Linked DNA regions of Homo sapiens: regions 1, 3 and 4 are each reported to be linked to region 2. The links are microRNA targets in miRTarBase. Many come from high-throughput screens and were not tested one by one. Region 2 holds a microRNA gene; each other region holds the end of a gene's coding sequence.

Evidence for each region. The annotated mature microRNA hsa-miR-5007-3p reads AUCAUAUGAACCAAACUCUAAU and lies in region 2 at 4,784-4,805, shown strand. An mRNA with a match to its seed (bases 2 to 7 or 8) in the 3' UTR can be bound and repressed. Matches are read on the target gene's strand: a 7mer-m8 pairs with bases 2 to 8, a 7mer-A1 pairs with bases 2 to 7 and ends in A, and an 8mer does both.
Region 1: the mRNA of PDK3 is a reported target of hsa-miR-5007-3p. The part of its 3' UTR that is shown has no 7-base or 8-base seed match.
Region 3: miRTarBase lists SMIM13 as a target of hsa-miR-5007-3p. Seed matches in the 3' UTR shown: 7mer-A1 at 6,318-6,324, 7mer-A1 at 6,191-6,197 and 7mer-A1 at 4,752-4,758.
Region 4: miRTarBase lists UBE3A as a target of hsa-miR-5007-3p. Seed matches in the 3' UTR shown: 7mer-A1 at 1,476-1,482, 7mer-A1 at 2,039-2,045, 7mer-m8 at 3,224-3,230, 8mer at 5,833-5,840 and 7mer-m8 at 6,214-6,220.

Annotation. Positions count from the first base shown.
Region 1 is chrX:24,532,339-24,540,736 of GRCh38, forward strand. PDK3 (pyruvate dehydrogenase kinase 3) reads left to right here. Exons shown (of 11, transcript NM_005391.5): 11 at 1,591-2,084. The coding sequence ends at 1,734. Among named protein-coding and RNA genes, the nearest start is that of PDK3, 71 kb to the left of the region's middle.
Region 2 is chr13:55,169,726-55,178,123 of GRCh38, forward strand. It overlaps MIR5007 (microRNA 5007), which reads left to right and starts at 4,729; the gene lies at 4,729-4,823. All of the region lies in intron 4 of LINC02335 (long intergenic non-protein coding RNA 2335), which reads left to right.
Region 3 is chr6:11,133,610-11,142,007 of GRCh38, reverse strand. SMIM13 (small integral membrane protein 13) reads right to left here. Exons shown (of 2, transcript NM_001135575.2): 2 at 3,275-7,605. The coding sequence ends at 7,406. Among named protein-coding and RNA genes, the nearest start is that of ERVFRD-1, 26 kb to the right of the region's middle.
Region 4 is chr15:25,332,001-25,340,398 of GRCh38, reverse strand. UBE3A (ubiquitin protein ligase E3A) reads left to right here. Exons shown (of 13, transcript NM_130839.5): 12 at 171-314; 13 at 1,142-6,671. The coding sequence ends at 1,262. The region is part of intron 146 of SNHG14 (small nucleolar RNA host gene 14); the gene reads right to left. Among named protein-coding and RNA genes, the nearest start is that of SNORD109B, 58 kb to the right of the region's middle. RefSeq lists a silencer at 8,223-8,398.

The DNA of each region.
Region 1 (8,398 bases), not on the chromosome of region 2:
GCCTATTGAAAGGTCTGATCTAAAAGAAGGCAGATTTTCATAAACTGAAGTATTTTGGTCTTTTGTTTTAAAAACTCACTGGCTTTCCCAAAGCTACAAGAATTCAGTAATCATAATATGGTTATGTAAAAGATTCATTTAATAACAAACTTCTCTGTAACACAGTTTTTCTTATTCATTGGTGATCATTGGGCTTTTATTTCTAAACTCTAGAATATTTGTAACATTTTTTTGAATAGGTAATATAGGCACATAATAAAAATTTAAAAGCTACAAAAGGAAAAATGAAGTCTCTCCTCCCACTGGCCCTAAACCGCCAGTTCTGTTCAGCGAAGATCACCACCGGTCTCAGCGTCTTATGGATCCTCCTAGAGTTGATTCTACATTTATAAATATGGGAAAAATAGAATTTTTCCCACATAAATGAAATTTCAGCACCTTCTTATTTTTTTTACTTTGCAATCTGTCTTAGAGATCTTTCCAGATCCATTTATGTAGAACTGGCTCATTCTTTTAAACAGTGGCATAACATGCCACTGTGGGTCAAGCATCCCTAACCCAAGAATCTGCAATCCAAAATGGTTGAAAATCTGGAACTTTTTGAGCGCCAACGTGATGCTTGCTCAAAGGTCAAGCTTAAAGGAAATGCTTATTGGAGCACCCCAGATTTCAGATTTTCAGATTAGGGATGCTTAACAGGTAAGCACAATGCAAATATTCCAAAATCGGAAAAAATCAGAACTACTTCTGGTCCCAAGCATTTCTTTCTTTCTTTTCTTTTTTTTTGTTTCTTTCTTTTTCTTTTTTTTTTTTTTTGAGATAGAGTCTCACTCTGTCACCCAGGCTGGAGTGCAGTACTGCCATCTCGGCTCACTGCAACCTCTGCCTCCTGGGTTCAAGCCATGCTCCTGCCTCAGCCTCCTGAGTAGCTGGGATTACAGGTGTGAGCCACCACACCCGGCTAATTTTTTGTATTTTTAGTAGAGACAGGGTTTCACCATGTTGGCCAGGCTGGTCTCGAACTCCTGACCTCAGGTGATCCACCTGCCTCAGCCTCCCAAAGTGCTGGGATTACAGGTGTGAGCCACTGTGCCCGGCCTGTTCCCAGGCATTTCAAAGGGATACTCAACCTATGTATGTGATACCAGAATTTAACCAGTTACTGGGAGTATTTATCTTAGATGCCCATGCATCTAAGTAATGCGATATTTAATATACTTGATGGTGTGTGTTTATAAACCTGGGATGCATGAGACTGTATCTCTTCCTGGGCCCTTTGTGAGACCAGTCACCAGGTATAGTCAAAACAGTTGAGCATCTCAAAGCAGTATGAGCTGAATTAAAATATGTTTTGTTCTGGTCATGTGTATTTCAGTTCTGATTTTGAATGAGCAAATGTTTTCATTCCTTTAAAAAAGCTTTAATGTTTTCCTGGCCAGTCTAAGTAAACTACTAAGGTGTAATTTTAATATCATTTTGAAAATATGTATTAAGGTTTCTGATGTTTTAAATAATAAAATTTGGGTTACTATTTCACTTGAGAAAAATGACACTGTCGACCTTTGGTGTATATTTTTGTTTCTCCAATAGGCTCTTTCAAGTGAGTCATTTGAGAGACTTCCAGTTTTTAATAAGTCCGCATGGCGCCATTACAAGACCACGCCTGAAGCCGATGATTGGAGCAATCCCAGCAGTGAACCCAGGGATGCTTCAAAATACAAAGCAAAACAGTAATATACCACCTTGATTTCCATTACAAAGTATCTGATTTGTCTGAATAAAGGTGTCCCACTCACTGTTCCAGGAATTCTTGCAGTGTAGAGGTATTCACAACAGCAAGCAGGGATTTGGCCTGCCATCAATTTTATTTAAAAAGCAATTAAGTTTGCAGTTTGTCCTCATAAACGTTGTAGGTTGAAACTGAAAAATAAGTTAAAATGATCAATCAAGATAAAAGGTGATCTATCCATCCAATGGAATATTATTTGGCCTTAAAAAGGAAGGACATTCTGATATGTGCTGCAACATGGGTGAATCTTGAAGTCATTATGCTAAGTGAAATAAACCAGACATAAAAGGACAAATACTATGATTCCACTTATGTGAAGTACCTAGAGTAGTCAAATGCAGAGACACAAAGTGGAAGGGAGGTTGCCAGGGGCTAGCGACGAAGATGGAATGGGGAGGCATTGTTTCATGGGTACAAAGTTTCAGGTGGAAAGATGAAAAACTTCTGGAGATGGATGGTGGTGATGCTTGCACAACAGCGTGAATGTACTCAATGCCACTGAACTGTACATGTAGCAATGGTTAAGATGGTAAGTTCTGGGCTGGGTGTGGTGGCTCACGCCTGTAATCCCAACACTTTGGGAGGCTGAGGCTGGATGATCTCTTGAAGCCAGGAGTTCAAGACCAGCCTAGGCAACATAGTGAGACCTCTGTCTCAGCAAAAAATTTAAAAAGGTAAAATTAGCCGTGTGTGGTGGTGTGGGTCTGTAGTCCTAGCTACTCAGGAAGCTGAGGCGGGAGGATCACTTGAGCCCAGGACTTCCAGGCTGTAGTGAGCTATGATTCGCACCACTGCACACCAGCCTGGGGGACAGAATAAGACCGTGTCTCAAATAAGAAAAAGGTGGTAAGTTCTATGTTATGTATAGCTTATCACAATAAAAAATGTTAACATTATAAAGGAAAAGTTATCAATCACAGAACAAGTTTCACTGTTTTATGGTAATAAGGAAAATAATCTGTAGTTTTCTTCTGACTATGTACCCTTAAGCTTCAACTCTACTAGCAACAGTGGGGTTCTGCTTCATTTAACTTAAAATAATCCTGTATTAACAAAAAAGCAGTATATGTGCATTATAAAAAATAAGAAAACATTGGCTGGGCGCAGTGGCTCACGCCAGTAACCCCAGCACTTTGAGAGGCCGAGGTGGGTGGATCACTTGAAGTCAGGAGTTGGAGACCAGCCAGGCCAATATGGTGAAACTCTGTCTCTACTAAAAATACAAAAATTAGCCGGGTGTGGTGGCACACGCCTGTAATTCCAGCTACTTGAGAGGCTGAAGCAGGAGAATTGCTTGAACCCAGGAGACAGAGGTTGCAGTGAGCCAAGATAGTACCACTGCACTCCAGCCTGGGCGATAGAGCTAGACTCCATCTCAAAAAAAAAAAAAAAAAAGAAGAAGAAGAAGAAGAAGAAAGAAAACATAAGTAAGCCAAAAAAGAAGGAGAAACCTCTGTGTTCCCAAAACCCAGAGATTGCCACTGCTATAGCTTCGTGTATATTCTTCCAGATATTTTGCCATTTGTGTATATATGTATTTTTTTTGCAAATGAGATTACACTATTCATACTATTTTACAACCTGCTTTTGTTTCATTTAACCATCCCATCTTTCCATGTCAATGATCATTCACTGCAACCTCTGCCTCCTGGCTTCAAGTGATTCTCATTCCTCAGCCACCTGAGTAGCTGGGATTACAGGCGTGGGCCACCATGCCTGGCTAATTTTTATATTTTTAGTAGAGACAGGGTTTTGCCATGTTGTCCATGCTGGTCAAAAAAAAAAAAAAGAAAGAAAAGAAGGAAGGAAAGGAAGGAAAAGAAGGAAGGAAAGGAAGGAAAAGAAGGAAAGGAAGAAAGGAAGGAAGGAAAGGGAGGGGGAAGGGGAAGGGAGGGGAGGGGAGGGAAGGGAAGGAAAGGAAAGGAAAGAGCTAATGGAGCATTTTTTGCTAGAATATCCATAAACACTGTTGCAGAATTACACTGAGACCCATGACATCTCATTGACCCACCATTAGTGATGTTATGATTGAGCATAGTTTAGGTGATGGCTGTCTGATCCCTCTGAGTTATAGTTATTTTTCCCTTTTTCACTAGAAAATAATCTGTGTGGTGTTATTTTGGCACTATGCAAATGTATACTTACCCATCAGCTGTTCACCTAATGGTTTTTACCCCAATTGATCATTTCGGCCTGTGTTAAAATTAACACAGTAATTTTATTTGGGTTTATAAAAGAATGTTTTTTTTTTAAATCATTCCTTTGTCAATTATTCTCCTATAAAGTAAAGCTCTTCCTCATCAAATAAGGCCATTTAGGTATTTTGAAGTACAGTTCCTCTGGTAACTGTTTAACTCCTTCCTTTTAAATTTAAAGGGACAATTAAATTCCCTTCAAGTTACCAATTTTCCAGGTAAGAAATATGTTAAAAGCCACCTTAAATGGTTAACAAATGAGTTTATGGCTTTGTCTTTTTTAGTGTTATAGTAGATTTTGTTACTTTGATATGTTTTAATTGGCACTTATTTTATTGAAGCATAACATATAGTAATAGTAAAGTGCACACATCTTAAGTTTACAGCTTTTTTTTTTACATCTATATTTCCTCTACCCACAAAGACTCCTTTCTAGTCAAACAGTTGTCCCTCCCTCCTCCACCATATAATTGCTTTTCTAACTCTATCACCATAGGTTCTCTTCTTGAATTTACAAGGAACACATAGTCTATACTCTTTTTGTGTCTGGCTTTATGTGAGATTCATCCATGTTATTGCATGTAACAGTCATTTTCCTTTTTGATGCTTGAATTGACATACCTTTGGCCAATGAGAGCTATTTCCAGCTGGATCCTTAGTGTTCTATTGCCAAAACTCATTAATCTTTGAAAGCTTTTCTTGCCCAAGATGATATCCTAGATTCATCTTATACCTTCTGTGCCTGTGTCCTAGAATCAACTGTTTCCCTCAAGGAGTCTTGTTTCTTTTCTTTTCTTTTTTTTTTTTTTTTTTGAGACAGAGTCTCACTCTGTCACCCAGGTTGGAGTGCAGTGGCGCAATCTCAGCTCACTGCAGCTCTACCTCCTGGGTTCAAGCGATTCTCATGTCTCAGCCTCCCAAGTAGCTGGGACTACAGGCATGAGCCACCACGCCTGGCTATTTTTTTTTTTTTTTTTTTTTTGTATTTTTAGTAGAGTTGGGGTTTCGCCATGTTGGCCAGGCTGGTCTCGAACTCCTGACCTCAGGTGATCTGCCTGCCTTGGCCTCCCAAAGTGCTGGGATTACAGGCATAAGCCACTGCACCCAGCCCTGTTTCTTTTTAATCAGTATTAGAGATGCTAATCTGATAATTGGGGATGCTTGTTATACCTTTTTTAGGCCCTTTTCCTTGACAGACAGAGCTATAAAATATAGCTATATTTAAAATATATTTTAAATCATAAGTTCATATTGATATTTTATTCTATTTTAACATTGTAATGTTTCTCCCCAATATATTTTAATTGTATATATTTCTTATTATCCTGAAAACCTTGATTTTTAACATCTTTAACACAATGCAACAGAAAGATATTTGTACACAAATACAGTTTATATAGCTTTGCAGTATTGTACCATTTAGTAGCGTTGGTCTTCTCTGACAAGTGTTATAAATGATATCCATATGGATGTTTATTTTTTTCTATGGAAGTGTCATGGTGGACTGCTACGCAATATTGCTGGACTGGCCACTCATCTCAAATGATGAAGTTTAGAGAAGTTTGGTTTGTGGAAACAAACATACTTACTCTCACCATTCCCAGCCAAGTTTAAGCTAAATCAGCTTGAAATACCTGGATCATATCAATTTCTGTTGATTCCATTTTCAGTCTGTATGTAAGTCAAATAGAATGTTGAGCATCGATGTGACCAGTTGATTCAAACTGCTCAAACTATTGCTCTGATATGTGGAGTAATTTGAGTAGTGCAGAAGCCATCTTTAGAAAAAGGTTTGGTTGTAAAAAGGTGGCTTTAATTGAATATTATTTTAAAGGCAATTTTTAAACTAAGGTTTAAACTAAGGTTTAAATTTTAAACTGAAGGTTGTATGCTGATTATTAGTCTTAACTTCTAATATATTATTAGGTGAACAAATTTAAGCAGAAAGCAGTTCTTAAAATTTTAAAATGCTTAGCCTGACAGTTAAAATTGTTAAACTATACAAATAATCGGTAGAGATTTGGGGAAAGACTTTAGTAAGTATGGTAAATTCACTAGGTATTTATACATGAGAGGTTCTAAGAAAATTTATTTTCAAAACAGTTTCTAAGTGAGAGTTTTATTGAGATTAATTCACACAACATAAAATTCACCCTTTACAAATATATAATTCTGGCCGGGCACAGTAGCTCACGCCTGTAATCCCAGCACTTTGGGAGGCCATGGCGGGTGGATCACTTGAGGTCAGAAGTTCAAGACCAGCCTGGACAACATGGCAAAACCCCGTCTCTATTAAAAATACAAAAATTAGCCGGGCGGTGGTGGCGGGTGCCTGTAATCCCAGCTACTTGGGAGGCTGAGGCACGAGACAAACCCAGGAGGCATAGGCAGCAGTGAGCCAAGATCACGCCACTGCACTCCAGCCTGGGCGACAGAGCGAGACTCCATCTCAATAATAAATAAATAAATAAAAGTATACAATTCCATATTTTTTAGTATATTCACAGAGTTGTGCAGCCCTTCCCACTAACTTTAGCATATTTTCATCACCCCAAAAAGAAACCTCATAGTTTTTAGCAGTCACTCTATATTTCTAACCAGAGTTTTCACTGACAGTAAAGAACCGTTTTAAAGTATATATAAGTAATTAAATGGTCATTCTATTTCTGTAGTAATTGTAGAAAATAATTCTGAGATATGGCAAGGGTTTTTGAATTATCACTATAATGAAATACTCTAAAAGTCCTGGTCAAAACAGAGGAGGTTGTACTCACAAACTCACTATGGATATTCTCATTATTTTCTTTGTAGAGACAAGATCAAGACTAATAGAACTTTCTAGAGGACTGAATGCTGTGGTCCTCTCTGTGAAGAAAGATTGCCTTCTGCAAGTCAAACAGAGAGAACTGCTTTCTCCCACCTGCTCTGAGCGTGGCATCACAGTTATTCCTAGTGCTTAAATGTGTATTTTCTCTCTACCACCTGGACTTTCCCAAAGAGTTTTTCCTGTAGCTACTCCAGATCTTCCACTAAAGTAGTAACTTTTTAATGACATCTTGCTGTGGTGTGATTGATGCCTGTCACCGAAGAGCACAGAGCCTCCTTACAGCTCTTGTGCCCTCGTACTCTCCATCTTGTTATCATAGCATCTGATGTCTTCAGTCCTTCCAGGATTCTGTGCGCCTTTCCCATTCCAGATACAGCAGATCGTACTGTTGCTCCTTGTGACCAAATACCATATTTGTCCCAAACCTCCACCTAGGGCCCTGGGACCCTGAAAGTGGAAGACATCAGGTGGCCATGCCCTGATGATTTAGTCCCAGAGCCCTCCGTCTCTCCCGTGCCTCCCTCCGCCACTCTATGATTTAGACTTTTGCCTTCTTCCATCTGATCGGATTCTCATTGTGAGATGTGGTGACTTTCATGTTAGATCTTCTTCATTGATGCCTTGGTTTTATTTTAAAATTCATTTGTATATGTCTGTTGATTAAAGCATTCGAAATGTTATCTTAGAATTTTTCACCCAACTGCTTGGTTTCAAAGATCTTAAGTGAAAAACTGCCTCCTGGTCAATACCAAATTTGTACAGAGTGTGAAGTGGAGTTTTTATGCTTCTGTCAAACTTCCATCCATCTAATACTGTACCTGTGTCATATTTTATTCCTTTGTAGTCTTCTAAGGAATTGGAAGTTTCTGTATGATGCGCTTTACTAGTTGTAAAATAGACTATCAGAGGGAAAAGGCCTCTCTAGTTTATTTTTGAAAAATGCTCCAGGTCTTAATAATTTTCATTTTCATTCATCTTAGTTTTAGAATTGTCACCTCAGTCTGATTTTCACAATCCTTTTTGCTAAAAGTTGGAAGTGGGAATTAGCAGACGATTTGGGATAAGGAAAGAGGAATGATGTTATATTTACCCTTAGGAATAGAAGTGACCGAAGAATCCGGATTGAAACCAGCATCCTATATACAGCTCCACAGGATGTGCTTCTCTTCATGGTAATTTTCCATATATATCATCTACTTTGATTTCTGCCCCGTTTTAATGTCCATATAAATGTTTCAGTCCAATTTGTAAGTGTTGAGTCCACTGATGTAGAAGTTCTGACTTGTAAACCATTCATCCTGCTTTAGTCATATGATAGTACCGATGCAATTAGCTCCTCTCCCACCACCGTGGGGGATTTCTCCCTGAGATGAGGTGTGCTTTGACCAGCTGCATGTGGCTTGATTGCATTCCTGTTTCTCTTAGTTCCACTGGATCTTGTTTTCTTTTATTTCGTTATATTACCTGAGCTCAGGGTAGTTCCGTTCATCTTTAGAAAGAGCTCATCTCTTCCATCCTTAGAAGGATCTCATCAGAGAACTCATATGTAATCAATCAGGTAAAAGAAATACTGATGTACTTCTGAGA
Region 2 (8,398 bases):
CATTAAAGAGGCCATACTGCCCAAAGCAATTTATGGATTCAATGTTATTCCCATCAAGCTACCTATAGCAACCTTCACAGAATTAGAAAAAACAATTTTAGAATTCCAATGAAACCAAAAAAGAGCCTGAATATCCAAGAAAATCCTAAGCAAAAAGAACAGAGCTAGAGTCTATCTGACTTCAAACTATACTACAAGGCTACCGTAACCCAAACAGCATAGTACTGGTACAAGGGAACAGAACTGAGAGCCCAGAAATAATGCCACACACCTACAACCATCTGATTTTCAACAAAGTTGACAAAAACAAGTAATCAGGAAAGGACTTCCTAGTCAATAAATGATGATGGGATAACTGGCTAACCATATGCAGAATACTGACACTGTTTCACTTATACCACATAAGAAAATAAACTCAAGATGAATTAAGGACTTAAAAATATGACCTACAACTATAAAAATCCTGGAGGATAACCTAGGAAATACCATTTTGGGCACAGGCCCTGACACAGGTTCTATAATGAAGATGTCAAAAACAACTGCAACAAAAACAAAAATTGACAGATGGACCTAGTTAAACTAAAAAGCTTCTGCACAAAAAATGAAATTGTCAGCAGAGTAAACAGACAGTCTACAAAATGGGAGAAAATATTTGCAAGCTATGCATCCAATAAAGGCCTAATATCCACAATCCATAAGGAATTTAAACAAATTTACAGGCAAGAAAACAAACAACCCCATTAAAAAGTGAGCAAATGATATGAACAGACACTTTTCAAAAGAAGACACAGATGTATGAAAAAATGCTCAAACCACTAATCATTAGAGAAGTATAAATCAAAACCCCAATGAGATACCATCTTAAACCAGTCGGAACAGCCATTATTAAAAACTAAAAAAATAAGAGATGCTGGTGAGGTTGTAAAGAAAAGGGAATGCTTATAAACTGTTGGGGGCAATGTGAGTTGGGTTAACCATTATGGAAAGCAGTTTGATGATTTCTGAAAGAACTTAAAGCAGAATTACCATTTGATCCAGCAATCCCATGATTGGGTATATACCCAAAGGAATATAAATTATTCTACCAGAAGGAAACATGGATGTGAATGTTCATCAGAGCACTATTCACAATTGCAAAGACATGGAATCAACCTAAATGCCCATCGGTGGTAGAATGGATAAGGAAAATAGGATACATATACCACGGAATACTATGCAGACATGAAAAGGAACAAGACCATGTCCTTTGCAGCAACGTGGATAAAGCTGGAGGCCATTAACTTAAGTGAACTAATGCAAGAACAGAAAACCAAATACCACGTGTCTCTCTTATATAGCAGGAATATGCATTGAGTGCACAGGGACACAAAGAAGAGAACAATAGACATCAGAGCCTACTTGAGAGTAGAGGGTTGGAGGAGGGTGATGATTGAAAAATTACCTATTAAGTACTGTACTTATTACCAGGATGATGAAATACATCATTGAACACTTGATAAACTCCTACTGATATGGCTAATGCTTTTCTTCTCCATACTGTAAAGATCCTCAGAAGTCAGTTGCTTTTACCTAGCTGTGCTAACAGTAAACCTTCAGAGCCTTGTTTCAGGGTTGTATCATTTTTTTTTCTTCTAGATATGATCTGATTTGCAGAGAGTTTGATCATCATGACATTCCACAAAGCCCCAGTCTTGTCCACTACATTGATGACATTGAGTTTATTGAATCTGATGTGTAAGAGGTAGCAATTACTATGACATAGTTTCGTAAGGTAAATTCTAGCCAGAATCTGGGCAGTAATTCCACAAAAATGCATGGATCCACCTCTTCATTAAAGTTTCGTGGTTTCAAATGTCTGGAATATGTCTATACTTGCCTCGAAGGTAGCAAATATATTTTTTCATTTTGCACTGTCACAAAAAAAATGTAAAAGCTCAATGCATGGCAGGGTTTTCAAGATTTTGGAGACAACATACCACAGTTGAGAGTGCTTCTTCAGCATATTTACCAAATCATATATTAAGGCTGCCTATATCTTTGAGAGCTATATAGTAAGAGGTGACTTTTCAATAAATACAGGCCAAAGTACAAGATGCTCTTCTCCATGGCCTAATGATTCAGTAAATCCATTGATATTCAAAGTATCTGTGGTAAATAGAGATGCTTTATAGGCCATTCTGATAGACACTAATAGAAGAACCACAAGGACAACTTCTAGGATTTTGGAGTAAATCAATGTTCTCTTCTGAAAGTAAATTTCCTACTTCTTGAGAATTAGCTTCTGACTTACTATTAGCCCTTAGAAGAGAACAAACTGAAGATGACATCAGGTGACCATACAGTCTGCATTTTCCAAGTCAAACGCATCTATTAATAAAGTTGGATATGTGCAGCACCAATCTATCATTGAGTAAAAATGATATGTAAGAAAATGAGTTTGGGCAGGGCTAGGGGATAGAGTGTCTTTTGACACTGCTTCTTTCTGCATTGCTTCCCTTCCAACCATTCACACCTACGGCTTTATGGGAGTTTCATTCAACTAGTTGACTAGAAATAAAACACTTCAGTCTGTTTTACAGTTTGTTCTTCAGGATATGCTGGTATTGCCAATGCAGTTTCTATTTCCTTAATAGTTATTAATTGATACTTATTCTTAAGGAACAGATTATATAAGCAACCTTGATTCCGTAATTTTCTAACATACTATTCTTGGTTTTATTTCTGTCATATAAACTATGTATTTTTCCAACAGCTTAAAGCCAAGTTTATCTTTTAATTTCTCTATAAGTTTCAATCACATTAATCCAATTGTCAACATTGTATCAGTTAATTCTTTTAGGTTATTATTTTTATAAGGTCTTCCACAAATTTAAAAGCATGAATATTTTGCTTTTTTTAAAAAAAATAAACTTAAATTATTCTGTTTTTGACTTATTGTAATGCCTGAGTATAGTATTGAGAAAAATATTACTTACTTTTTCTTTAATTTATTTGGAATCATTCCAATATTTTATTATAAACATTAGATTTCTACTGCTTATCCTTTGCATGCAAACATACAAAGTCTAGGGGATTTTTTAGCCACTTTTTGCCACTTAACAACAACAAAAACAAAACAAAGAAATCTTAGTGCTTTTCTTTTTTTCATACAATTGTATATAGCTACAATTTTTTAATGTTCTACCACTTAGTAGGTTAAAATAAATTTATAGAAAAATAAATGGGAGATCAAATATTCATACTTTAACATAAGAACTATCAAGATACTAGAAGGCAAGAGTGATCTTATACATAAATAAGAGTTATATTCCACAAATCATAAAGGAAATATTGATATATTTAACAACATTTTAAAGGGGCTACACTTACATCATAAACAAAGTAAATGAAGAAATAAATAATGGGGAAATGGGATTTTTAACTTATAAGACAACTTTGTGATTAATTTTATATTCTAAATGTATAAAAATGCCATACAAATCAATACCAATGGAGTAAAGAAGCTTAAAATATAATAAAGTCAGACCTAAAAAACTATACAAATTGCTTATAAAGATGTAATAATATTTAGAATCACTTGTCAGATACATATGAAGTAAAATATGCAATTTTACACTGAGATTGGATTGGAAAATCTCTATTTTTTGTATTATATAGTTTTGTAAGCTATTGCATGGGAAATAAGATTTCTCATTTAACTAGATAATATAAATTAGAGGAGAACTTTGCAATCATTATTTGTTTTAAATATTACATGTTCTTGCAGATAATAAATAATCACTTAGGAATTTTGCCTACAATTTTGCATCTCAATAGAAAGCTATAAGAACACAGATATTCTTGATGCATTATTGGTAAAAGCAGAAGAGTGGTGGAAAACAATTGTATACCCACATTTAATGCAAACATAATAAATTTATGACTTATCTCATTATGTTATTTCCCAATTGGATTTTTTCATAAGTTTCTTCTGATAAACACAAAGGATACCAGGAATTGACTCTATATTACTGCTGTCCAATAGATCGTTCAATAAGGAAGAAAATCTTGTTTATTTGTGCTTTCCAATATGGTAGCCACAAGCCACATGAAGCTATTGAGTACTTAAAATTGACTATTTCTACTGAGATATAATTTTTTGTTTTAGAGATGGGGGTCTCAAATTCTTGCCTCAATCTCCTGAGTTGCTGAGACTCAGGATTCCTTCATGCCAGCTCAGGAATTAAATTTACCTATTAATCAATATAAAGTAAAAGTGGATAACCACATCGGGCTCAAGAATATCTTATTGGGCAGTGCAGTTTGAGGTAAATGTTGCTTCTTTAGCCAGTGTATTAGTTCATTCTCACATTGCTATAAAAAAATGCCTGAGACTGGGTAATTTATTAAAAAAAAGAGATTTAATTGGCTTATGGTTGTGAAGGTTGTATGTAGGAAGTATGACAGCATCTGCTTGGTTTCTAGGGAGTCCTTAGGAAATTTACAACCATGGTGGGTGGCAAACAAGGAGTCAGCACTTCACATGGCTGAAGCAGAAGGAAGAGAGAGAGGGGAGTGGTGCCACACACTTTTAAAACAACCAGACTTTGTGATAACTGACTCACTATCAGAGAACGGCACTGAGGCAGTGGTGCCTAACCATTTTTGAGAACTCTACCCTCATGATCCAGTCACTTCCCAATGGACACCCCTCTCTAAGACTGGGGATTACAATTTGACATGAGATTTGGTAAACCTTGGTGACTAATTAGAGTCTGGCTGATATGGTTTGACACAGAGCTAAATCATATGAACCAAACTCTAATTAGTCAATAATTTCTGTTAAAAATTATCCCTCAAATATCTTCCAAATCAGCCTTCTCTTTCTTATACTGATGAATGCTTCTTTTAATTAAATTTTTATTTTTTTCACCTGTATTACTGTACCATCTTTCTAAATGAACTCTTGTCATTTAAAACCAACCCTAAATTCATCTCCTGAGATGTCTGTAAAATGTAGATCTTCGTCACTTCTATATTTGCAAACTTTCAGCTCCCCCAAGTTGTTAATATTTTGGCCCCAGATTCTCCCTTTAGCCTCACATGGCTGCCAAATCTTCAAAACTCATTTACCTTCCAGACATAAAGCTTCTTCTAAAATTCTCTTTATAAAACATCATGCATTTTCATGTTTCCAAAGTTTTGCACATTTGTATTCATCTTTCTGGAATGCTTTCCTCAATGTTTTCACTTTTGTTTCTTCATTTATTCTTCAAAGACTAAGCTCACTTGTAACCTGCTGATAATTAACTATCCCCAGTTCTACAAGCATATTTGTTAGGGATGTCTCTTCACTGTTTATATAATATCCAGTCTTACTACCCCAGTGATAACTAATGATTCGACGAATAAATATGGTCAAAACTAAAAGCTCAGTAGCCAAGAACTAACAACGTAGAATAAATATTCTTCAATGTAAAAGGCAGAGTAGGAGAGAATCCCTGAAAATGGCAAGAATTGCTAGACATTAAATAAGACAGTAAATTTGATGGTTTGAGTTATTTTTTTCTTGTGATCGTCTTATTTTCACAGCCTATCAACATTTCTTCTTAGAAAAAAAGTAATGTTAGGATAAAAAATTTTAAGTAGGAGTGATTATAGCTATTGGGGACATAATTAATGAGATACCCCTCTTCTACTAGTCTATCTTTGAGTCATGCCTTTCTACTTATAATAGTAAGCTGACATCAGCTATAATAGGGAAATTATCTTCTCTCCTGGTTCCGCTAGTGTCTGTAGAAAAGATGCAAAATTTCACCTACTATAGACATATCCCAAAGACATACCCAATGCCGCCTACATGTTTCTCTAAAAACCCATCTTTTACTCATTGTCACTACATTTCCAGTCCACCTACCAAGTCTGCATTAACTAATTAAACAAACAAGCACTGTTTGAGAGTCTACAGAATTACAAGAAACCTAAGCATTCACAATGTTTCTAGTTCATCAGGAAGCTCAGATTTTGATCTATCTTTGGTTGTTAATTTTTCTGTCACTCCAATCATATTATTTGTTCTGTTGTAGTGCATCTATTGCAGGTCCCATTGAAACTCAAGTATGGCTTATCACACTGATCTTCAAACCCAATGCATATATCAGTAATCATACAAATAATAATAATGTTGACACATTACATTTATTACATATTTACTATGTGTAATTTACTATTCTGAGCACTCCTTTACGTTATGTGGTTTGGAGATTTATAGTACTCACTAGTAACTTACTCAAGGGATATTGAAAGAGTCATACTGAGTAAATGCTATTAAGTATTCTATGATACCAGAAACAACCTTAGTATTGCAACCTTTCAAATATAAACATATGTGAGTCAATCTGAGCTGTGGGTGGACACACTCTAGTGTAACCCCCAGGAAGTCACCTATTGTATAATACCATACCCTTGAATGTGGGCAAAACTGGAACTTGCATTTAATGGAATATGACAAAACGTGCTGGGGTATCTCTGCAGTGATTAGATTACAATACACTTATAAGACTTCATTTTAATAAATTGTTGTATAGCTCTTCTCTTGCTGACCTTAAAGAACAAAACAGAGAGGTTGTGAAAATTTCTACAGAAAGGGCTTCATGGCAGGGAAGTGCAGGCAGCCTCTTGGACATGAGCATGTACTTGGAATCCTAACCTATGGAAACTGAAAAAATGAATAGGTATTGTTTTAAGTCACTAAGTTTGTGACAATTTGTTGTGTAGAAATAGAAAATTAATGTAAGGGCTATCCTAAAAGGAAAAAGAATTTAACTTTGGGCCTTTTAACATATTCAGTCTCTTTAATAAAAGGTGGCTGGTTTTACTGTTACAAATTCTCAAATGTATATTTTCACAATTTGTAAGTATATTGATAATTATGTATTATACATTTAGACTCTCAATGAATTTTAATCAAACTGAAAATGTTTTCTCACTTCCCTTCAATAATAAATAGTTGTTTATTTGAAAATGTCTTCTACCATGTCTTAATTTACAGTACCATCAAATATATAATTGAAGGGTAAGAAAATTCTTAAATTATACAATATTAACCAACACATCCCATTTAACAGAACATGGCAATAATGTTTATCTCTTTTTGTTTAATTTAAAAAGTGTTTGTGAGAAGATGGCATAATGGAGAGCAATGAAATTACTCAGAAAGTGGTTTCTGTGAGACTTTAGTTTATGTTAACATCTTATTTTTCCCTCAGGTGTCAAAGATGTAATGTTAATATTAAAATTCTCATTGTCTTAAAGTTTCCTGAATAATAAACATTCAGGATGGAAACAAGTTGGAAAAGACAAACCACACTCCTTAATAATATATAATCTATAATAGGGAGCAGCTTAGTCATTGGCTTAAATTAAATATTCATTCATTGATAAAATATTTCTGTTCCTATTTATATCATAAAATAATCAATACTCTTTAAAATTTTTCTTAATGTGTGATATGGTTTGACTGTGTCCCCACCCAAATCTCATCTTGAATTGTAGTTCCCATAATCCCCACATATCATGGAGGAACCCAATGTTAGGTAATTGAATCATGGAGGCAGTTACCCCCATACTGTTCTCATGATAGGAAGTTCTCATGAGATCTGATGGTTTTCTTAGGGGCTTTTCCCCCTTTGGCTCAGCACTTCTCCTTCCTGCTATCATATGAAGAACATGTGTGCTTCCTCTTCCATCATAATTGTAAGTTTCCCAAGGCCTCCCAAGCCATGTGGAACTGTGAGTCAATTAAACCTCTTTTCTTTATGAATTACCCAGTATTGGGTATGTCTTTATTAGCAGCACGAGAACAGACTAATATAGTAAATTGGTAACACAGAGAGTGGGTGCTGTTATAAGGATGATTGAAAATGTGGAAGCAGTTTTGGAACTGGACAATAGACAGAGGTTGAAATAGTTTGGAGGAATCAGAAGAAGACAAGAAAATGTGGGAAAATTTGGAATGTCCAAGAGACATGGAGGTCTCAGAAGACAGGAAGATGTGGGAAAGTTTGGAACTTCCTAGAGACTTGTTGAATGGCTTTGACCAAAATGCTGATAGTGATAAAGACAATGAAGTCTAGGTTTAAGGGGTTTCAGATGGAGATGACAAACTTGTTGGGAACTGAAGTAAAGGCTACCTTGCTATATTCTAGCAAAGATACTGGTGGCAGTTTGCCTCTGCCCTACAGGTCTGCAAAACTTTAAACTTGAGAGAGATGATTTAGGGTATCTGTTGGAATAAATTTTAAGCAGCAAAGCATTCAAGAGGAAGCAGACCATAAAAGTTTGGAAAATTTGCCACCTGATGATGCAACAGATAAGAAAAACTCATTTTCTGGGAAGAAATTCAAGACTGCTTCAGAAA
Region 3 (8,398 bases), not on the chromosome of region 2:
GAGTCTCGCTCTGTCGCCAGGCTGGAGAGCAGTGGCGCAATCTCGGCTCACTGCAACCTCCACCTCCCAGGTTCAAGTGATTCTCCTGCCTCAGCCTCCCAAGTAGCTGGGACTACAGGTGTGCACCACCACGCCCAGCTGATTTTTGTATTTTTAGTGGAGACAGGGTTTCACCACGTTGGCCAGGATGGTCTCCATCTCTTGACCTCGTGATCTGCCCACCTTGGCCTCCCAAAGTGCTGGGATTACAGGCGTGAGCCACTGCCCCCAGCCTCTTTTTTTTTTTTTCTTTCTTTTTAAAAAAAGGTTTATTTGGCTCTTGACTTGACTGGCTGGAAGACTGGACATCTGGTGAGGAACTCAGGCTGCTTCCATTCATGGCAGAAGGTGAAGGGGAGCCTGCATGTGCAGGATTGCATGGAGAAGAGGAAGCAGGGGTTGGGGAGGAACTGCCAGGCTTTATTTAACAACTAGCTCTCTTGGGAACTAATACAGCAAGAACTCACTCGCTACTGAGAGAATGGCACCAAGCCTTTCGTGAGGGATCTTCCCCTATGATCCAAACACTTCCTGCTAGGCCCCACCACCAACACTGGGAATCAAATGTCAACATGAGGTTTAGCGGGGACAAATATCCACACTGTTAACAGCCTTAGTTCTTTTTGTGCTGCTATAACAGAATACCTGAGACTGGGTGATTTATAAAGGACAGAAATTTATTTCTCACAATTCTGGAGGCTGAGAAGTCCAAGATCAAGGTGCTGGCAGGTTCGGTCTCTGGTTCCAAGATGGCATCTCCTTGCTATATCCTCCGCAGAGGAAGAACACTGTGTCCTCATATGGAAGAAAAGAGAGCCCACACCTGCGGATCACCTGAGGTCAGGAGTTCGAGACCAGCCTGGCCAATGTGGTGAAACCCTGTCTCTACTAAAAATACAAAAATTAGCGGGGCATGGTGGAGGGCACCTGTAATCCCAGTTACTCGGGAGGCCGAGGCAGGAGAATCGCTTGAACCCGGGAGGCAGAGGTTGCAGTGAGCCAAGATCGTGCCACTGCTCTCCAGCCTGGGAGACAGAGTGAGACTCCATCTCAAAAAATAAAAAAAAGGGATCCCATGCCTGAAAGCCTTTTTTATAGTGACATTAATCCATTCATGAGATCAGGGCCCTCATGACCTGAACACCTCCCATTAGGCCCCACCTCCCAACCCTATTGCATAAAGTTTCCAACACATGAATTTTTGGAGGGAACAAAAACATTCAAACCACAGCAGTGTCACCTTGGGTCTCTTCTTATTCCACCCCCCTACCCTGGGGAATCCTATTTTTGCATACAGCTTCAAATGCATACACATAGTGATAACACTGAGTCTGTGTTTTCAATCCATGTCCCTCATACTATTTGTACAACTGGTTATTTCTGTCTACGTAATATCATATAAGCACCTGAAATTCAAATATGGTATGCCCAAAACTGGACTCCTATCTTCCACCTCCCTATGCCCAATCCCAAACCTACTTCTCTTGCTGTATGCATCCCCCCATGTTATCAACTGCTAAATGTTGAAATCATCCTTCATTTCTCCTTCTCCTTCACAATCTAATCTCAAGTCCTATTGATTTTTCATATCCTCAAATTTCCCATGGTCATTGCTCCTTTCCAGTCTGCCATTAGTTTTGTTTTCTTGCTTGGACCAGTTAAGAGACATCCTGTTTCCATCGTGCCTCCAACCAGTCCTCCTCCTTGCAGTTAGCACGAGCAACTAGTGCAGATGCCTGGAAGATTAGTCGACTACTCAACATATGTTAAATAAGCAAATCAGTGCTCTCTGTTTAAAATAGTTTAGTAGTCTCTGTCCCATATGACATGAACTTCAAAGCCTTTGCCACTGCACACAAAGTCTTTTTGTGACCTAGACTGTACATCTCTATTGTCAAAACAGTGGACCCCCACCCCCACCCCCGGACACGTGCATTCTCTATTTCAGGAATGACCAACTATCTATAGTTCTCCAAGCAAGGCACCTTCCCATGACACTGCCTGTGCACATTCTTTTATCTAGAATCCTCATCCTCTACTTGGAAAACTCCAACTCCTTTCTTCAAGATTCTTAGTGAAGCTTTTGCTGTCCTTCCCTCCTTCCTCCTCTAACCCCCACAAAGTTCTTTGTAAACAGCATCATTCTTACAATCCAGCTGAATTACTTACACAAGATAAACTAATGCACTTGTAGAGATGCCCAGGGGGTGGGAGGCCAGGATGAGGAAAGAGCATTCTCGAAGCTCCCCCAGAACATTCCTCTTCCATTTTCAGGAAGTTCCCTCCTCCTTTTAAGAGCCACCAGACATAACAGACCTTAAGATAAGTCTTCCAAGTCCCTGACATGGCCCCCAAGTCATAGTTACCTTCTCCATTCCAACTGTAGCCATCATGTGGAAAATATTAGTGGCCATTCTGAGGCTCACATCATATGCTTAAAATGAGTCACTGTTCTCAGATTCCCCTTTTCTATGGCTGTATTTAGTGTCATCACTCAGAACTACTTCACCTAATTTCCATCCCAAACTTATCATACACGTCACATTCATTTTATCTTCAATTCCCTATCCCTTTCCTTTCATCCAGTTTACCAGTGCCTTACTGATCCAACTTCTCTCATGACGCAGCCCAAATTCCAGGGCCAATCTCCAGCAATCTCTAATGACCCTGCCCTTCAGACACACCTGCCTTGCAAAATCCAACCCTAGCACAATCCACTTCTTCCCATCCTACATTCTTGGCAGCTGAGCACTCCTGGAGAAGTCACAACTTGCCCCAGCCAATGAAATTCATGGTTTTCTTTCTCAATTGCATTCTCAAAGAAACTCCTCCATCTTTTTACTTGGCTTTGATGAGTTTCTTCAATCTTCCTGGTGGTTAATACTAACAAAAATGTGAAACATGATCTGTGGCAAACAGGTTAACAAAACAACCTTGAGGGTGTTGAATACAGCATGGGAAGAAAACAATAAGGTAAATGTAATAATGTAGCTCTAACACTATATGTGTGTGTGTGTGTCTGTGTGTCCTTTAATGCTATATATATGTCCTAAGTCATTTACTTTCATGGCACTAAGAAATATTATTGCTATTCTCTTAATTCTTCTAGACTTTTCATTTGAAAAATGGGGTGAAGTGTGGACCATTAGTAAGAATGGCTGCTTTCAAATCCCTTCATGTCCAAGGCACCCTTCATACTTATTATCCTTTATCAACCAGAGACACATAACTTTTGTTGTTTTCAATTTAATTTATTCTATGCAGTTTAAAGTGAAAGTTAAAACATCATACAAACCACAGAAGCTTCATAGTACTGACCAGTTTTAAAACAAAAACAGTGAATGATCATTTACACACATTCCTCATCTTTAATTTTACATCTTGTTATATATACAAAGGTACTATTAAAACACGTAATTCTAATTATTTATAAACCTATTGTCAAGCAGCAAGATGGCAATGCATCATAGCAGACCACAGAATATTTCCTTCAAGGAATCACAGCAGCAGTATTTGGTGAATGGTTATGCATAGAACCAACTTGGAGGATCGTGTTAAACATTCCCCATAAAACAGGTAGCACATGTACACCAACAAATGAAAAATGTAACTTTAATTGACATAAGATAAAATGTTACTCTTTACACTTTAAGTTAAAAACTATAGGACACTTTAGAAGCAGACAATACAAGGTGCTTTAGTTCTAGACTTCACAACAGAACACTATTCCATTAGTCGCTTGAGAGTCCATAACCTCTGAGGACTGCTCAATGGCTTTTTAAAGTCAACCTCAAATATAAAAAGCACTTTAAGTTTACCAGTCAAAATCTAGTTATATCAGTTACATCTTACGTTACAACATACTACTTGAGAAAACTGACTTTTAAAAAAGACTGCATTGTTGACTAATTTCAAAGATTGCTGCTCTTAAAAGTAAAAATGCACCACTTTCAAATCTTTCAACATGTTTTAAGATATCATATTTTGTGAATCCATTACTTTATATATTCCAAACCTTCAGCAAAATAAAATTAAAATGGGTTTTAAACCTAATATCTCTAAAGAAATGGGTCTGCATGTCTGTGAAGTGGCTGTCCACCGCACAGCAATATGTTTGTTTCAACTGTGAAAACATCACTACAAAATCCATCAAGTGAATTTTATATTCATTTTGATGGAAATATCAAAAACCTCATTTAACAGCACTACACAAATATTTAGTGTTTTTGGCATTTAAATCAGAGCAACGCAACCAATGCAATTGGTACAGGCAATTTTCACAAAAAGTTTCAAAGGCAGAACAATTGGAAATGAATGGCTGGTTGGGAAGGAAATAAAACAACCTACCAGAGTCCTCAATTTTAGAATTAATCTTCAAAAGATGGCATGCTGATCACCATCATCCTTTGTGAGGGGTTAGACAAGATTCTAATACATGTATGTGTTTTTAATGCTTATAAACTTTTAAGCTCTAAAATTAACCACAGGCTAGTCCACCTCCCACTGAGACTGCAAATGTAGTTGTGATGCAGTTCCAGTAAGTTTTAGCTACAAAAGCACTAAAACAGGAAAACAAACACTATACCACATAAATAATTCTGCGTTCACTATCTTGCCTTTCTTAGTGGCATTAAGAAATATGTACCATGGTAAGTGTGTTGTGAGGTGCACGAAGAGAAAAAAGTTCTAAACAAAGGATTTGTTTATAGATCTTCATATTGGCATCAGTGATGTTTCTTTACCCTCCCTAAGTGAGAGTCTAAGAGCTAACTAGTATGCTTTTAGGTATATTTCACAAGTTAAATAGAGTATTTCTTAAAATTACATAAAATAAGACATGCTTGAAGCATAAATGTCAATAAATAATGCCAACATATATACCTCTACAAAGGTTAACCTGTATTAATTTGGGCATGACCCTTGTAGATTTCAGGGGCAGAGTTACATCAGCCATCATTCTTTAATAGTGACATAACAGGAAGCTCACCAGCTACTTTAAGTTTTCCAGCAACTATTATATAAACCTTAGGTATCCACCATAAAACAGAATCCATAGTTCAAAACAATAGACTATGAAAAATCTAATTTAAATATCCTCCCAGTACCAAATAATGCCCCCAAAAGTTTTTGGGGGCATTATTTTTTTTTCTGATAATCATTTTAAGATGATATTTAGCTAGTAGGAAGCATTAAAATTAACGCTTGAAACTGTCACTGTTTTGTTATGCCCTAGAGTCACATAAAAATAGAAAATTGTATCTAATAAAGAAATGAAGACAGAGACTGTGCCTTGCTCTCAGCTGCTAGGAAATCTTCCCCTAGCAAACACATAAAACTAAAGTTATGTTCTGTGAATTCTCTTTTAGTATCTCCAAGAGCTACAATATAGCAAAAAGGTGTTCATCACAAACATTGGGACAGAGCCAGTGAACTGTTAAACAAAACTCTAAGCAAGAAGTATGAGGTATCAAACATAATAACACACCATCATAAAATAGAGGTTAAATAGATATTTTGTGATGACTAGTCCTTAATAAAGGTTAAGAAAAACATAAAAAGAACTTGGATTAATAAAGTAAGTTGGCTTTGCACTTCATTCTTGTACAAAGCAGGTAACACTAAACAGGAAGGTTGTTTAATTCACATCTCTTCTCCCTGGTAAACACTCAGCCCAGAGTTCAGTTGAGACAAACACGGAAACCTGGCAAGAGAGTCATTTTACAGCTAAGCGGGAATTTTCACCCACTACTGTTTTCCTCAATACGCATTACCTTTGAGGTCTTGTCACTGAATTGTTTGTGAAGAAGTGTTTTTCTCCACAACACATTCCTTGAGCATAAAGTCCTCCTATACAAAGGGAGTAACTAATCCCACTCTTCCTAAAGTAGAAGATAGTTCTTAGATTCCTAAGTTACTACCCTGAAATCTTGGTTACCCCCTCCCCCCCAAAAACATGTGTTTCACACAGGATTACAAGTTTAACATTGTAAGAGTCAGAATCAAATTCCCCAATAAATAACTGCTATCTTAAAAAGAAAAATAAATTTACAAGCTACCATTTTTAATTTAACCTAAGACACTACCAATTGTTAAGATGCACCATATGTATCACTAAGAAAAAACACTGCCCATTAAACTATGACACAATGCTTTCATATCACAGAAAATGTTTATATTTATTGAAACAGCGCTTTGAGTTAAACAGATTTTTATCACATCAATCTTGTGCATATGTAAAGAAAATGTGTGAAATAAATTGGTTAAGTTATAATTATAACTTCATATTCTGAATCCAACTCTTCTGAATCACTTTTCAAACCACAGTCATTGATGTCTGCATTTTTCCACAGAACGTCTCTCCCGGTGTTGTCAAGAGTACTGGTTATGCAGCACTTCTTGAAAGAGTGCTCCAACACTGTCTTCTGTTTAATGGCAGTGGGGAGCTTGGGACAAAACGATGTTTGATGCCTTAATGATAGTCCTGCTCGACGCATGAATCGGTCACACCAGCCTCTTGTGGCTTTGAATTTTGTTTCATCAATTCCTAGGGTTTTGGCAACTTCTCCTGCCTTCAATTGCATTGCTTGGCGTGTGATAGGCAATCCTTTTGCACGTGTCTCACTGACGAAACGTAGTACAGCTTCATCTACTTGTGGGTACCTACCTTTCTTAGGTCCCGTAAAACATTTTGTTGTTGCTTTGCAGGAAAATATGGAATTGCGATCATTTCTCCAGCGACGAATATTTGCTTCACTAATATCAAATGTACGCCCTGCTGCTCTGTTTCCATGCTTTTCTGCATACACAATAACTTTTCGTTTCAATGCTGAATCATAGTGTGATCTTTTTGAAGACATTTTAAAATGTCAATTAAACCTGACACATTTGATACCAACAAAACACATGTTGGTTAAAGGGATGACACGATGACAAGCTGTAAATTCACACATGCACACGGTAGGAGCGTTACATGACTATCACCTGGTTGACAGTAATGAGATGCATCCCAATTTCAGATAAGTTAAAATGGGAAGAAAAATGTACATTTTAGGGCTAACAAAATATGGTTTTTCAAGCCTTTAATGTTTACCAGATCTGCACCAGTGCAAGAAAATAAGCCCAAAAGCCAAGGAATAAGTGTATAAGTAGAAAGCTGGTGAAACAAAAGATTATCTTTAAGATGAAATTTATAATAGTCCAATTTGGTTTCAGTTCCCTTTATTTTTATATGGCTTACATGTAAATCTTTTTTAAAATTCGACTTAAAATCCAATACAAATGTTCTTCAGTCATTAGTAAATTTCAAAGCGAAGTCAGTAAAAGACAGAAGCTGGCAACTGCCTTTTCATCCTTCACAAGTACAGGACTATGTCAGGGGTCTGTGGCCTTCATCAGCAGGTGCCCTCCTTTGGCGAGCGGATCTGATTCTGTGTGGAGAGGAGGAAGTGTCTTCTTCAGTTTCAGACCCTGAAGGCTCATGATCTCCCTCTTGGGATCCTGTGTCTCCCACCAGTTCCCGGAGAAACTTGAATTTTGATAAAAAAAGATGCCATACAAAATACCAACCTACAGAGAAAGACAAAAACATTAAGAAAAGTTATTACACACAATGTTATCAATTCAGAATGTTACAGTTAATGGGGGGTATATTACAAAATACTATATAAAAATATACATAATTACAAATATATAATGATATAACAAACATTTTTTGTACAAGGAATGAGGATAAACTCTGGGATTACAGTAATGACAAAAACAGTCTCTACCCTCATAGAATTTAGAATTCGGGCTGAGTCTATCTACAGTAAAATCATAATGAGTTTATGATATCTAAGTAAAAGTGTTACTTATACTAAAATCAAATTTTTGAGAGCATTTTTCTGGGAAAGAAAGAATTCACTTTGCCATTTACTTGGACTTTCATATCTCGGTGCTATTTATTTACTAAAAGCAAGTTTGTTTCGATCAGAATCCATAAGGCCTTAAACAGCAGGACTTAACTGCACTATGATGAAAACTACTCAGTCAGGACCAAGCTATTCGTAAGTTTCTGGAAATAATTTTTCAAAGAAAATACATTTTCTTAAATTATATGATGAAAGACTAAAGCCACGGCACCAATATCTTAGATTCAAGATGTTTAAAACACAGATTTTTAAAATACGATATTTTCACATCAATGTCATTAAAAAGTATGACTAATTCTCTTTTAACAAAAAAAAAAAAACAAGTTTTGTTTTTGCAAGGAGTAGTAAAGGTTTTTAAATGTTCGCTAATAAGGAACAAACATTAATCAATAAAGGAACACACAGGAGAAAACCTCTGAACCTATGCTTGGTTGCTCTAAAATGTTAAG
Region 4 (8,398 bases), not on the chromosome of region 2:
GTTCAGGATAAATTTGCTTGGAAATTTTTAAATCACCAGAAGTGATACTATCCTGATAATTAACTTCCAAGTTGTCTCTTAATATAGTTTTAATGCAAATCATAAGCTTATGTTAGTACCAGTCATAATGAATGCCAAACTGAAACCAGTATTGTATTTTTTCTCATTAGGGAGTTCTGGGAAATCGTTCATTCATTTACAGATGAACAGAAAAGACTCTTCTTGCAGTTTACAACGGGCACAGACAGAGCACCTGTGGGAGGACTAGGAAAATTAAAGATGATTATAGCCAAAAATGGCCCAGACACAGAAAGGTAGGTAATTATTAACTTGTGACTGTATACCTACCGAAAACCTTGCATTCCTCGTCACATACATATGAACTGTCTTTATAGTTTCTGAGCACATTCGTGATTTTATATACAAATCCCCAAATCATATTAGACAATTGAGAAAATACTTTGCTGTCATTGTGTGAGGAAACTTTTAAGAAATTGCCCTAGTTAAAAATTATTATGGGGCTCACATTGGTTTGGAATCAAATTAGTGTGATTCATTTACTTTTTTGATTCCCAGCTTGTTAATTGAAAGCCATATAACATGATCATCTATTTAGAATGGTTACATTGAGGCTCGGAAGATTATCATTTGATTGTGCTAGAATCCTGTTATCAAATCATTTTCTTAGTCATATTGCCAGCAGTGTTTCTAATAAGCATTTAAGAGCACACACTTTGCAGTCTTGTAAAACAGGTTTGAGTATTTTCTCCACCTTAGAGGAAGTTACTTGACTTCTCAGTGACCTAACCTCTAAAGTGCATTTACTGATGTCCTCTCTGTGGTTTTGTTGTGGAAAGATTTAGTTAAATGAACTGTAAGAATTCAGTACCTAAAATGGTATCTGTTATGTAGTAAAAACTCAATGGATACAGTATCTTATCATCGTCACTAGCTTTGAGTAATTTATAGGATAAAGGCAACTTGGTAGTTACACAACAAAAAGTTTATGATTTGCATTAATGTATAGTTTGCATTGCAGACCGTCTCAACTATATACAATCTAAAAATAGGAGCATTTAATTCTAAGTGTATTTCCCATGACTTACAGTTTTCCTGTTTTTTTCCCCTTTTCTCTATTTAGGTTACCTACATCTCATACTTGCTTTAATGTGCTTTTACTTCCGGAATACTCAAGCAAAGAAAAACTTAAAGAGAGATTGTTGAAGGCCATCACGTATGCCAAAGGATTTGGCATGCTGTAAAACAAAACAAAACAAAATAAAACAAAAAAAAGGAAGGAAAAAAAAAGAAAAAATTTAAAAAATTTTAAAAATATAACGAGGGATAAATTTTTGGTGGTGATAGTGTCCCAGTACAAAAAGGCTGTAAGATAGTCAACCACAGTAGTCACCTATGTCTGTGCCTCCCTTCTTTATTGGGGACATGTGGGCTGGAACAGCAGATTTCAGCTACATATATGAACAAATCCTTTATTATTATTATAATTATTTTTTTGCGTGAAAGTGTTACATATTCTTTCACTTGTATGTACAGAGAGGTTTTTCTGAATATTTATTTTAAGGGTTAAATCACTTTTGCTTGTGTTTATTACTGCTTGAGGTTGAGCCTTTTGAGTATTTAAAAAATATATACCAACAGAACTACTCTCCCAAGGAAAATATTGCCACCATTTGTAGACCACGTAACCTTCAAGTATGTGCTACTTTTTTGTCCCTGTATCTAACTCAAATCAGGAACTGTATTTTTTTTAATGATTTGCTTTTGAAACTTGAAGTCTTGAAAACAGTGTGATGCAATTACTGCTGTTCTAGCCCCCAAAGAGTTTTCTGTGCAAAATCTTGAGAATCAATCAATAAAGAAAGATGGAAGGAAGGGAGAAATTGGAATGTTTTAACTGCAGCCCTCAGAACTTTAGTAACAGCACAACAAATTAAAAACAAAAACAACTCATGCCACAGTATGTCGTCTTCATGTGTCTTGCAATGAACTGTTTCAGTAGCCAATCCTCTTTCTTAGTATATGAAAGGACAGGGATTTTTGTTCTTGTTGTTCTCGTTGTTGTTTTAAGTTTACTGGGGAAAGTGCATTTGGCCAAATGAAATGGTAGTCAAGCCTATTGCAACAAAGTTAGGAAGTTTGTTGTTTGTTTATTATAAACAAAAAGCATGTGAAAGTGCACTTAAGATAGAGTTTTTATTAATTACTTACTTATTACCTAGATTTTAAATAGACAATCCAAAGTCTCCCCTTCGTGTTGCCATCATCTTGTTGAATCAGCCATTTTATCGAGGCACGTGATCAGTGTTGCAACATAATGAAAAAGATGGCTACTGTGCCTTGTGTTACTTAATCATACAGTAAGCTGACCTGGAAATGAATGAAACTATTACTCCTAAGAATTACATTGTATAGCCCCACAGATTAAATTTAATTAATTAATTCAAAACATGTTAAACGTTACTTTCATGTACTATGGAAAAGTACAAGTAGGTTTACATTACTGATTTCCAGAAGTAAGTAGTTTCCCCTTTCCTAGTCTTCTGTGTATGTGATGTTGTTAATTTCTTTTATTGCATTATAAAATAAAAGGATTATGTATTTTTAACTAAGGTGAGACATTGATATATCCTTTTGCTACAAGCTATAGCTAATGTGCTGAGCTTGTGCCTTGGTGATTGATTGATTGATTGACTGATTGTTTTAACTGATTACTGTAGATCAACCTGATGATTTGTTTGTTTGAAATTGGCAGGAAAAATGCAGCTTTCAAATCATTGGGGGGAGAAAAAGGATGTCTTTCAGGATTATTTTAATTAATTTTTTTCATAATTGAGACAGAACTGTTTGTTATGTACCATAATGCTAAATAAAACTGTGGCACTTTTCACCATAATTTAATTTAGTGGAAAAAGAAGACAATGCTTTCCATATTGTGATAAGGTAACATGGGGTTTTTCTGGGCCAGCCTTTAGAACACTGTTAGGGTACATACGCTACCTTGATGAAAGGGACCTTCGTGCAACTGTAGTCATCTTAAAGGCTTCTCATCCACTGTGCTTCTTAATGTGTAATTAAAGTGAGGAGAAATTAAATACTCTGAGGGCGTTTTATATAATAAATTCGTGAAGAAATGTGTGCTCTTCAGTTCTCAAGTTTTATTATTATGGTATTTATTAAAGTTCTACAATTGTAATAACGTATCCATATGACAAGTTTTAAAGTGGTAATTGAAATAGGTTATCAGATATAGAGTTGTTCACATCAAGTAGACTTTTAACAGAGTCAGAATGAACCTACCCTTAAAATTTTAGAGAAAAAAAATCGTCGGTTGCACAGAATAGCTGCTCTAGCTTGCTTAATTATGCCGGGCATGTTGTCACTCCTCTTACTTTTGCTGCCTTTTCATTACTATTTAATGGAATGTCCCTGAACAATAAGGAAGAGCAAAACATAGACATTTTGACTACAGTGGATACTTCCTCTACCCCAAATGTTATGTTATAAAAGTACTTTTTTTGCCCAGGTACTCTATTATATATTTTGGTTTTCTTTGAATTAGACCTCAATCTCCAGGAAGCTCTGGAGGGAAAAAAAGGAACCATAAACTAAAGTAACTGGTTTTCCAAATAAATGTAAACTTTTTTAACCTTTTATTATTATAGAACATTTCAAACATACATAAAACATGAAAACAGCCTGCAGCCAAACTTTTCTGGACCTTGGCAGCTCCAGCAAATGAGCTGGTCATCCTAACCCTGGTTTCCTGAGACAACTACTTTTGGGGATGCTTGCTTGTATAGGGAGATGATAGATAGATAGATACATATCAAAAAGAAACTTGAAAAAGGCTTCGAACAGAACTTGCCGATGTTACTCATCCCTCCTCGGTACAGACATTCTGTTAGAACAGATGGTTGTAATGGGGCAGCATCACTCCCTATTCCCATTAAAAACATGACCATTCTGAGATTTCAGGCCCCTTCGAGGAATTTTTCTCAAGAATTCCATACAAACTGTCAGAGGAAGAAATGTCGTCCCAAGACTAGTCCCTGTGTAGTCTTGATCCCTTTACCTGCTTACTGTAATTTTTTTTCTCTGACTTTCCGCCAGTGTCTAAGGGCCATCTGTACCCCTCCCACCCTTCCATGAGCCACTGTATAATCCAAAAACACACCTTCCATTTGCTCCCTCACTTGTCTCCTTTTACCTCAACAGTGTTAGTGTGTAAAGAATTGCCTGGGGAGGGTAGAGGGTTTTACAAGTACAGAGTCCCAAGTCTTTTCTCCCCTCCCCGTTAGTGGGTTGGCATTTATTAATAGGCACTGCAAGATTTTGATGCAGGTGTGGGGTAGATATCACTGTGAAAGGCTACTAATGCATGGTAGTTTCACCGAAAGTACAGTCTTCAAGGATCCTTATAATCTCCTCATTGCCAAAATCAGTAACATCTATAACCTTGACAACACCCTAGCTTGGGCTGTTGCTTCTCTGGCTACTTGTTTTTCCATCCCAGTTTACCCAGATTTTAGATGGATACTCCTCCAATTCTGCTTAAAGTCCTTACCTGTTCTTGCCCAGTTCCCTCTAGTCAACCTCAGTCACTCCCAAAGATTCTTCCCCAATCCCATATCTTTTGCTCAGACCTCTGTCTCTGGGATTTCTTTGTTACCTCATAGTCAGTAGTCCTAAAAACAAAATTCTTCATCTTGCATCTCTATCGACCGACCATTCTTTGTTTCTTTTTAAGAAATGTAACCTTCACCCCAATCATCAAAATCTCTCATTCCTCAATTGTCACAGGTTGTCACTTCTTTCCCCCTAAACCTCTCCCATCATTCCTTCCTTCTTTATACTGCCCTTACAGGTCCTGATCCTCTGACTCACCCGGACATTCTTAGCAGCTGCCTAATTTCACTCCCTGACTCTCATCTCCCTCTTCCAATCCTTTTCATTGTGCTAGAACACTATCTTGCTAATTTTAATATCCTCTGCATTCAGTGCCTCCACAGATTGCCCCCTCACTGACCTTTCCAATTTGGCCTTGTGTTACACACTTTCCTCGCTGCATTCCTACCCAGCATCTTCACTTGTCATATTTCTCAAATACTCTTCATGACCAGATATTTAAAGTACCTCATCCATGAAGACTTCATCAACCCCCAAAGTGCCTCCAATGCTTCCGTGGTAGCACAGCATAATGGGGTACATTTCTTAGTTGAACAGTGAGGAGTCACTGGGATTCTTACAGAGTGTCTTAGGGTCTCCTCTTGATACTCTTTCCACATTTCAGTTAAGGAATTTTCTTACATCTTTTTTTCTTCTAATAACCTTTGCCTGGAGTGTAAGTAAATTCATGATAGAGACTGTCATTTTTAAAAAAAAAAACAAACCATTTTGCCTTTCACATGTTATTACCTCCATCTTTCTGTTATCTTGTCAGTGTTGCCACCTAAATGATTGAAAATGACCGAGCATGCAGTAGAATGTAGTGAAGTTTCCTATTTCATCCATTTTTTGCATAAGTGCATTGGTATCTGTATATCCATCTGCCCAAGCACCAGTTGTTGAAAAGACTATTATTTCCCCATGAATGGTCCTGGTACCCTTGTCAAAGAACAGTTGACCATAAATATAAGACTTTCTGGATTCTCAGTCTTACTCCATTGCCCTATATGTCTGTCGTTATACCAGCACCGCACTGTCTTGATGGCTGTAGCTTGGTAGTAAGTTTAGATTTGGGATGTGCAAGTCCTCCATTTTTTTTTTTTTTTTCCCCAAAATCATTTTGTCTGTTTTGGGTCCCTTGCATTGCATATGAATTTTTATATGATCATTGTGTCAATTCCTGCAAAACAGCTGGGATCTTGATAGGGATTTAGTTGAATTGGTAGATAAATTTGAGAAATAACTGCTATTTTAATGGTGTTAGGTTTTCTGTTCCATGACTGTGGGATGTCTTTGCATTTGCTTAGGTCTTTATTTCAGTGATGTTTTAGAGATTTCAGTGTGCAAGTCTTGACGTCTTTAATTTTTTTCTAAGTATTTTACTGATGCCACTTTAATTATATGATTATTTTCTAATTTTTATTTTTGTATTCATCACTGGTGTTAGAAATAAAATTAATTTTTGTATATTGATTTTGTATATTGTAGCTTTTCTAAAATTCTTTTTTTGTCACTTAGTATTTTTTGCATATGAGATCATGCATCTGTGAACAGAAATACTTTTACTTCTTCCTTTCCAGTCTAGATTCCTATTATTTCATTTTCTTGCCTTAGTGTGCTGGCTAGCACCTCCAGTACAATATTGGATAGAAGTGACAAGAGCAGACATCTTTTTCTTGTTCCTGATTTTAAGGGGAAAGCATTCAGTCTTTCACCATTGAGTATGATGTTAGCTAGCTGTGGGTTTGCTTCAAGTTGAGGAAATTCTTTTATTAAACCTAGTTTACTGAGTGTTTTTTAATCAAAAAAAAAAAAAGGAGGGGCTGTGGGTTTTGTTAAATGCTTCTTCTGTATCAAGATTTTCATGTTGTTTTGTCCTTTATTAATATGTTGTATTAATGGACTTTTGTATATTGAATTAACTTTGCATTCCTGGGATAATCTCAGTTGTCCATGCTACATAAACCTTGTTCTATGCTGCTGGATTTGGTTTGCTAGTATTTTGTTTAGAATGTTTGCATCTATATTCATAAGGAATATTGGTCTGTAGTTTTCATATTATATATCTGTCCAGTTTGGGGATGAGAGTCATACTCCTGACAGAATGAATTGGGAGCTTTCCCTGTTCTTAAACCTACTGAGGTATTTTTTAAGTGAACTACTTGGAGACCTTCACCTGTGATCTTCAGATGCTGGGGGACACAGGGATGGTACCTGACTCTGAAAAGGCTCTCAGGGTAAGACGTGTCTGAACTGGCCTGTGGCAGTTAACTAAAGAGTACTCCTACCAATAATGGAGTCAAGATGTATGTTTCCCATAGGCCACGCTGGTCACTGAAAGAGATGGGCTATGAGCCATCTTGAAAACTACCCTGCACAAATGGACTGCCGGCCTGGAGCCAGGCACCCTGCAGCTGAGTGCCATATAATGTTGAAGCTGTTGAGGGAGGAGAGGTTGGAAGCTGCCAGCTTAGAGAATCTCAGCTGTGGTTTCCAGCAGGGTGTATTCCAGGAAAGAAAGTCATTCCCCACCCTGGCTCAAAGTAATAATTAACAGTGACTGGGTAAGGCAGGATCTTTTTTTCTAATTCCCTCCCCTCCAGAAAGGGCAGCAACAGCTCTTGAATGGGAAAGAAGGTGGAGGGAGGAAAAGAAAAACCAATTGCCCCAACACTGCTGTCTTTAAGCTTCCCACCCAAAGACCTCAGTAAGAGGCAGAATTATGTTTTCAATTAAGAGAGAGTTTGGCCTCTTGGTGTTTCAAAAGTGTAGGCTTTTTAATACCTAGAGAAACTGATGATTTGTTGATTACCAAAAAGGGACCAGAAAAGCTACATAGCCTGAGATTTCATCCCCAGAAAAACGAATCCAGAGAGCAGACTTGCAAAAAAAAAAAAAAACCGTTCTGTCTCTGCCTCTCCCACTACACATACACAGTGAGAAAGAGAGTCTTCATGATTTGGTAAATTAGACCCATGGAAAGACTCGGGACATTTAGGATGATGATATTTACGATGAGGAAGATTTCTATGGGAAACTTTTTTTTAACTTGTCTCTAATCCTATTCCAACTGAAGTTTGAATTTTTTTCCTTTCATTAACATTTACTGGGCAAATACCTATTGAATGTTTGCCATTTTGCAGTGTGCCATAGGTTTCAGGCTGATTCAGAGCTGCTTTGTTGAATCAAGAAGTCTGTTACAGGGAGACAATCTAGTTAGACCAGGCATAAGTACAAACCACTAAGGGTAAAAGAAGTATGTGAAAGTACAATGTGGGCAGAGAATTCAGATCCAAAAATACTGCAGATAGGTAGGTGATGAAGGTCAAGCCGAATCTTGACATACAGGATAGGTGTATGTGAGTGAGTTAGGTGGAAAGTCTAGTATGTCTGAGTGTCAGGCTGTAAGGGATTAAGATGAGATTGGGAAGGCAGGCAGGTCAGATAATGAGGGCCTTATAGACCATACCAAGGACTTTGGACTTTTATTTTGCAGACGTTAAGCAAAGACATAATCACTTTTCATTTTATATTTATTACAAACTGAAAGAGCACAAGTGCACATGTGGTCTTTGCAGTTAAGTTATTGCCATAATTCTAAAAAGGCAGATAATCTGAAGATAGAAGGGAGGCCACAGTCCAAGACATGCTAGGGACTCTGATTGATTCAGTGCTCATGCATGGGAAAGATAAGAGTCAAAGACAACTCCCA